Linked DNA regions of Homo sapiens. The protein of the gene in region 1 purifies or fractionates together with the protein of each later gene. This does not show direct contact. Each region holds a gene or a part of one and is shown in the gene's direction. Other genes may lie near its edges.

Evidence for each region.
Region 2: the proteins of CDK17 (region 1) and CCNYL1 purify together in Homo sapiens (affinity purification with mass spectrometry; one large-scale study listed by BioGRID and IntAct). This does not show direct contact.

The regions. Positions count from the first base shown.
Region 1 is NC_000012.12:96,292,396-96,296,220, reverse strand, and holds part of CDK17 (cyclin-dependent kinase 17), read left to right. Parts: intron 1-1,098; coding exon 1,099-1,222; intron 1,223-3,825. UniProt on the Homo sapiens protein: May play a role in terminally differentiated neurons. Has a Ser/Thr-phosphorylating activity for histone H1.
Region 2 is NC_000002.12:207,739,133-207,742,957, forward strand, and holds part of CCNYL1 (cyclin-Y-like protein 1), read left to right. Parts: intron 1-1,522; coding exon 1,523-1,574; intron 1,575-3,090; coding exon 3,091-3,210; intron 3,211-3,825. UniProt on the Homo sapiens protein: Key regulator of Wnt signaling implicated in various biological processes including male fertility, embryonic neurogenesis and cortex development. Activates the cyclin-dependent kinase CDK16, and promotes sperm maturation.

The DNA.
Region 1 (3,825 bases):
AATTTCACAAATGTTGAGACGTTTATTTCTTTAATGCCAGGTTTACATGATTAGCTTAAGTTGGAAAGCGTTTTATTATTTATTTGTTTAAATGGCCTTTATACTTTCAAAATACAAAGTGTAACAAGAATTCATTTAAATAGTAATTTTAGAGTTTTAAAAACATAATTATGTAGACTGGAGAGACTCTGGCACAGAGAATTCATTCAGGCATACCGTTGACCTGCTGCCTTGGCTGCCTCAGTGTTCGGATGCCCTGTTTTTCACCTACAGATGAACTGAGGGGAAACTCTTGAATCCTCTGTACTTGAGGTTCTTTTTGTTAACCCCAGAGAATCAAAGGTCTTATGTGTTCCGTAACCCTCTTTCTACCAAAATGTACAGCAAAAACTCTACCATTAGCCTTATAGGAATTACTTTTTTCAGAGTCATTCAGAACACTACGGTGCTAATGCCCCTTTGTGAATCACAGTAGATTTTGAAGGCTAAGTAGGAGGTGCTGAAAGTAAAGTACCCAAGAGATGGGTGATAGAAGCTGGTTTAGGTTAGTTTTATAGTAAGTAATTTGCCAGAGCTATGCAGCAGCTTTCTCTTTGATACCTCAGACTTTTCATAAAATCGCCAATTCCAGTGCCTTATTTTAAAGACACTGCCCCAGATCAGAGTTTTTGTTTTTGTTTTTTTTCAAGGAGAGATGGGTGGGAGGGGGGTTGGTTGGTTGTTTTGCCAGAATTTTATAATTAAACTATGTAAACCTTAGTAGGCCTGTAAGTTTATGAGGATATGTTTTTTTTTTTAAGTCATTTTCCACAGTAAATCAACTGTTACTGCTAGGAGGAAGTTACTTTTTAAAAAATATTTCCATAGATACTGTTAGACTAAAAGAAATAGGTAGATGCTTCAAATAGAATAATAAACTATTAAATTCAGAAAGCCACTATATATAAAAGGAAAAAGACATTGTACTTAAGTATGCAATTACTTTCTTTTTCCTGTTACAATGTTCTAGGCCAGCTGCTTTTCTGCTTACCATCATTTATGCTTATACTAAAGCATGTCTCATCTTTAAGACTAATTTTTATTTATTTGTTTCTGTAGCTGTTTCTGTACCAAATTCTACGTGGTTTGGCATATTGCCATAGAAGAAAGGTATTGCATCGAGACTTGAAACCACAGAACCTCCTCATTAATGAGAAAGGAGAATTAAAGCTAGCAGATTTTGGTATGGAATGTATGAGATATTTATTAGTACTTCCAGGTTCTAAAGTGTAATGGTTAAAAGATCAACCACTGTCATAATGTGCCATTGCTTTTATGTGGGTTTGGAAATTTTCTCGGTAGCCCACAGAATAAGATATTTGACAGAACTTTGGTTGGTGATTTATGTTGGTTATTAGCAGCAAATTCTAAAATGCACAGGCTGTTCTTGGGTGTGGACAAAGACCCCTAGGGCTCCTGAGACCCTTGTAGGAGGCCTCTAAATGTAAATATATTACCAAAATTGTACCATCTGTTATTTGCCTATTTCACTGTGTTAATATTTGCAATGATGGTCCCAAAATAATAATGCATAAAACTATACATCAAAGTAGTGGCACCAAAATATATCTTTTTTTTTTTTTTTTTTTTTTTTTTTGAAGACAGCATTTTGCTGTTAAAGCCCAGGCTGGAGTGCAGTGGTGTGATCTTGACTCACTGCAACCTCTGCCTCCCAGGTTCAAGTGACTCTCCTGCCTCAGCCTCCCAAGTAGCTGGGATTACAGGCATGCGCCACCATGCCTGGCTAATTTTGTATTTTTAGCGTGACCACCATGTTGGTCAGGCTGATCTCGAACTCCTGACCTCAGGTGGTCCACTCGCCTCGGCCTCCCAAAGTGCTGAGATTACAGGCATGAGCCACCATGCCCAGGCCGTCATTGTATTCTTTACCACTACACTTACGTAAAGGGAAAACTGTCAGTTACACTTACATGATGAAGCAATAAAATTTATTAATTATATTTAATTTCCATCCTTGACTACATTTCTTTTTAATATTTTATGTGATAAAATGGGAAGTGTACATAAAACTCATTTGCTGCACACAGAAATAATGTGGTTACTTCTCAGGGAAAAGTGCTCATGTGATTATTTGAGTGCACATTGAACTAGCCCTGTTATTTGAGGGGACACCATTTTTACTTAAATGACTGACAGACAAACTGTGGTTATTCAGACTTAGGTGTTTGGCAGACATTTTCCTGAAAGTGAATGAAGGAAGCCTATCATTTCAAGGAAAAGAACTGTCAGTATTTCTTGCCAATAATAAAATTCAAGTTTTCAAGCAAAAATTAGAGTTTGGAAATTTGGATCTGCTTTGAGTTTGATGGCTTTTCAATACTTAGAGACTTTTCTGATGAGATCGATGTTGATGTTAACAAACACGATTTTTCAATATGCTGAAAAAGTGTATAAACATTTGGAATGTATAACCCAGGGATCCACTGTTTTCCAAATGGCTAATGCATGATATTACAGAATCATGCATGGATAAAAGACCCATTTAAAGTACAAGGTCAATGAATTTTAGTGCAACAAAAGCATGAGAAGTTCATCGTTATAGGTTTTGTTAACACATAGCTTTTAAGAGACCACTTACTTTCTAGTTCTGATGTAGTGTCAAATAAGACTATTCACATTTATCAGAAAAGGCTATTAAAATGCCCCTCCTCTTTCAACCTCATATCTGTGTGAGATTTGATTTCCTTCATATATGTATGTTGTGATATGTATATTTGATCTATTTTGATACATATTGTGATATGTATCAAAGCAACATATCACGACACACAGAATGCAAAAACAGATGTGGAATCCAGTTGTCTTCTATTGAAATAGACTTTAGGCCAGACACAGTGGCTCAGGGGTGTAATCCCAGCACTTATGAGGCTGAGGTGAGAGGATCACTTGAAGCCGGGAGTTTAAGACCAGCCTGGGCAACATAGCAAGACCCCATCTCTACAAAAACAAGACTTAAAAGAGATTTACAAAAATGTGAAAGAAGGCCATTCTTCTTACTGTTTTGTTTTTATAAAAAAAATGTTTTTCATAAAAATGTCATACATGCTGCATATAAAGGGTGGTGTTTTTAAAGAGAAAATAATATTTTAAAATTTGCTAAGTTTTAATTTCTAATGTGGCAAATATCAGTAAATATATCCACAAAAATAAAAGCTCTTTAGGTCTTTGATAATTTTCAAGAGTATAAAATGGGTCTTGAGAACAATGAGTTTAGAAGCAACTACTGAAAGGCGTTCCCTTAATATACCTGCCACCATTACTCTGTATTTATTATATGCTCAGTAATTTAATTGTAGCTATTTATCTATTTTTTTTTTAGCTAATCTGGTTTTAAGGGAATTGAAAGTAAAATTAAATGCTCTTTTTGCTTCTAGAAAGTAAACTTTTTCATATTGAAGGAACTTTGTAGAGCAGCTTTGAATTTTTTGTATTCCGCATTCTGAGAGTTTGAATACTCTTAGAGAACTTAGTTTTTAAAAACCCATGCAGTTTTCCATAACTAAATTCATAATTTTTTTTCATAAATGATTATGGTAGTTTTTTGGTTGTTTGTTTTGAGACAGGGTCTTGCTCTGTCACCCTGGCTGAAGTCTAGTGGTGCAATCTCAGCTCACTACAACCTTCGCCTTCTGGGTTCAAGCGATTCTGGTGCCTCAGCCTCCCAAATAGCTGCAATTACAGGGGTGCCCACCACGCCCAGCTAATTTTTGTATTTTTAGTAGAGATGGGGTTTCACCATGTTGTTCAGGCTGGTCTCGAACTCCT
Region 2 (3,825 bases), on another chromosome or scaffold:
TTTCTCCAAATCCTGATTTTTAGTTTGAAAGCTTGAATTTTATCATTGCAACAAATAGTGTTATTTTCTTGAAGTGACAGGCTTCATTTTTTTAAAACTTTTTATTTATTTATCTTTTGAGACTGAGTCTCACTCTGTTGCCCAGGCTGGAGGGCACTGGTGCCATCTTCGCTCACTGTAACCTCTGCCTTCCGGGTTCAAGTGATTCTCCTGCCTCAGCCTCCTGAGTAGCCGGGACTGCGGGCGCCTGTCACCATGCCTGGCTAATTTTTGTATTAGTAGAGATGGGGTTTCACCCTGTTGGCCAGGCTGGTCTCGAACTCCTGACCTCAAGTGATCCACCCGCCTCAGCCTCCCAAGGTGCTGGGATTATAGGCATGAGCCACCACACCTGGCCACTTCTTTCATTTTTGAGAATGACATTTGTACTTTCAAGTAAAAATGATATTCTGTGAAAAAAAAATGGCTTGTTTAGCTCACAATTAAATCACAAGTGCTTTTCCTTAACACAACTCTACCTCGGTATGCAGAATTACTTTATGTGAACTTTCTGCTTACTCCAGAATAGTGAAAAGAAAGGTCAAGATTTAATAATACCATTAATTTTTACTGCTTCAGCAAGGATATTCATGAGTGAAGCAGGTGTTTTTCTTAAACTGCAAGAGGCAGTAAAGAGTAGCATAACTTCTAGTATAATTTGGTAGCACTGCCTTGATTCATGCTGAGAAGCCAGCAGTTTGCCCACTTTTGCTGTTATACACTCATTACAAATGTCATACAGTCAAAAAGCAAGCAATACCTTAGTATTCTTTTTTTTTAAATTATTTTTATTTCTAAATTTTCAATCAGCTTTCTCAGGTTGAATAAGTATTCTTAAAAGAACAGTTTTGACCTCAAGGACCTCTTGGAAAAGGATCTAGAGGGTCTCCAGAAGTCCACAGACCACACTTGGAGAACCACTGGTTTTATTAAATGAGCACAATGTATTAGTTTTATAAACTTGTAAAGATTATCAAAGCCTTGTCTCTTTTAAAATAAAAAGACAATAAGGTTTTTAACTCATCAAACTACTTAAACAAATACATGTCAAGAATGTAATACGGAGAACTAGAAAGGAAAAGCCTGGGAAATCTGAATTTCATTCACAGTCATTAAAGTTCTAAAGAGTTTATTGCCCACCACTACTGCTGTGTAAAACGTTCTTGAGTTCCAATGAGGGGTTAGAAGAGTGAAAATATACTTTATTACCATTGCCTGTTAGGGAGGGCCAATACTTAAAGGCAATTCTGAATCGTCATTGTAGAAAAGACCTCACAGTACAGAACCTCATATGCTGAGTAAAAAGAGGTCAGGAAATCCTCTGAAGGCTGGCATCCCGGAGAAGAATTTGTACAACTCTTTGCTTTGGTGAAGCAAACACCAAAGCAAACAGGAGGCATCTCCCGCCACCCCCAGCAGACATTTTACTCAGATATTAACAATTCCTGAATTAACTTCTTCAATGCATATTCTTATTTTATAGAGATGCAAATAGATCCCTGGATATTTTTGATGAGAGATCACATCCACTTACAGTAAGTGTCACTTTTTTTGAGGTAGTATTTTTCTCTCATAGAGTTGTGTTTATTTCATGCTGATATTTATAAATAGTCCTAACAAATATACATGATCTCTATGAAGATAATTAGAAAACAATTTAAATTTAAATCAATTAAAATGGTGTAAACATTTAAAAATTCACTTCCTCAGGTATATGATAGCCGCTCGTGGCTAATGACTATTGTCTTGGACAGTGAAGCCTTTGAGCCTTATGGTTACAGGAAACTAAAGATATTTTTTCAGGCCGGGCACGGTGGCTCATGCCTGTAATCTCAGCACTTTGGGAGGCCGAGGCAGGCGGATCACGAGGTCAGGAGATCAAGACCATCCTGGCTAACACAGTGAAACCCCGTCTCTACTAAAAATACAAAAAATTAGCCGGGCACGGTGGCAGGCGCCTGTAGTCCCAGCTACTTGGGAGGCTGAGGCAGGAGAATGGCGTGAACGTGGAAGGCGGAGCTTGCAGTGAGCCAAGATCGCTCCACTGCACTCCAGCCTGGGCGACAGTGAGACTCCATCTCAAAAAAAAAAAATTTTTCAAAGTGTATTTAAGAGAATCCTAACATATGATTAGTAAGACTTTCGAGCCTACAAGTAGTTTACATTTTGATAGAATTCTGTGGATAGAAAGTGGAAAGGAACATAAAAATTTTCTGAGTTGTGCCTGTATTTTTCCTTAATGATAAATGGTGATGAGTATTGAATCACTATGATATTTTAAGATCCAATTGTTTATATTTTAAAAACTAAAAGTCATGTCACTCAACCAGAATTATTTTAAGGGGTACATGGGCTCAAACGTCAACACTGCTGGTCTTAGGAGTACTTAGGCCAGCTGGGCATGGTGGCTCACCCCTGTAATCCCAGCTCTTTGGGAGGCCGAGGTGGGCAGATCATGAGGTCAGGAGTTTGAGACCAGCCTGGCCAGCATGGTGAAACCCTGCCTCTGTTAAAAATACAAAAAATTAGCCGGACATGTTGGTGCACGCCTGTAATCCCAGCTACTCAGGAGGCTGAGGCAGGAGAATCACTTGAACCTGGGAGGTGGAGGTTGCAGTGAGCCGAGATTGTGCCACTGCATTCCAGCCTGGGCGACAGAGCAAGACTGGGTCTCAAAAAAAAAAAAAAAAGTACTTAGGCCGGGCGTGGTGTCTCACGCGTGTAATCCCAGCACTTTGGGAGGCCAAGGCAGGTGGATTGCCTGAGGTCAGGAGTTTGAGACCAGCCTGACCAACATGTTGAAACCCCGTCTCTACTAAAAATACAAAAACTAGCTGGGCGTGGTGGCGGGTGCCTGTAATCCTAGCTACTCAGGAGGCTGAGGCAGGAGAATCACTTAAACCCGGGGGGTAGAGGTTGCAGTGAGCCAAGATCATGCCATTGCACTCCAGCCTGGGCAGTAAGAGTGAAACTCAGTCTCAAAAAAAAAAAAAAAAAGCTTAAAATTTTTTTCTTCAGTGGATACTAACATTGCATCTTTTCTTCTTTCAGCGAGAAAAAGTTCCAGAGGAATACTTTAAGCATGATCCTGAGCACAAATTTATTTACAGATTTGTTCGTACTCTTTTTAGTGCTGCACAGCTAACAGCTGAATGTGCAATAGTAACTTTGGTAAGATATTTCTCATTTATAAAGTGTCTTTAGAAATTAGTCTTGTACACAGGGTATGGTCCTATTTTTCAAATAAAAATAGGTTCCTGAAATTATCATCAGAACTTTAAGAGAAACCTATGAAAGGAACATAAATACGTACATTCGCGTTTAATCATCATTATGGTTGAACATGTTTCCATTGCTTTTCTCATCACAGAACAGTTGCTACAAAAGGCAGCCGGGGAGATTTCTGGTTTCTCCCCCTACCCATCAATGCACATGTACACATTCAGTGTGTACACATACAAGGCATGGTGGCAGGGCTGGGGGTGATGGGGAGTGGTAACAAAACCATGTGGTTCAGAGCCAGATACTGATTCCAGTGTAGGTCTAAGCCAAGTCCCAGGCTCTATTCCCCAGGTATTTCCGATATGTGTGGTGATTGAGAACTATTGCCCTAAATTCTTTGTTCCTTGGATGATGGGTTTTAATCATCTCTGCCTACCTCTTGTGCCTGCTCGTGATGTTGCCCAGCAATGTGGTACCAGCAATACTTGGACAAAGGCTTTGCTGATTAGCTTACTAAGCTATAGCTGTGTCCTTAACTTTATGTCCTCCATACAGAATTCCTAT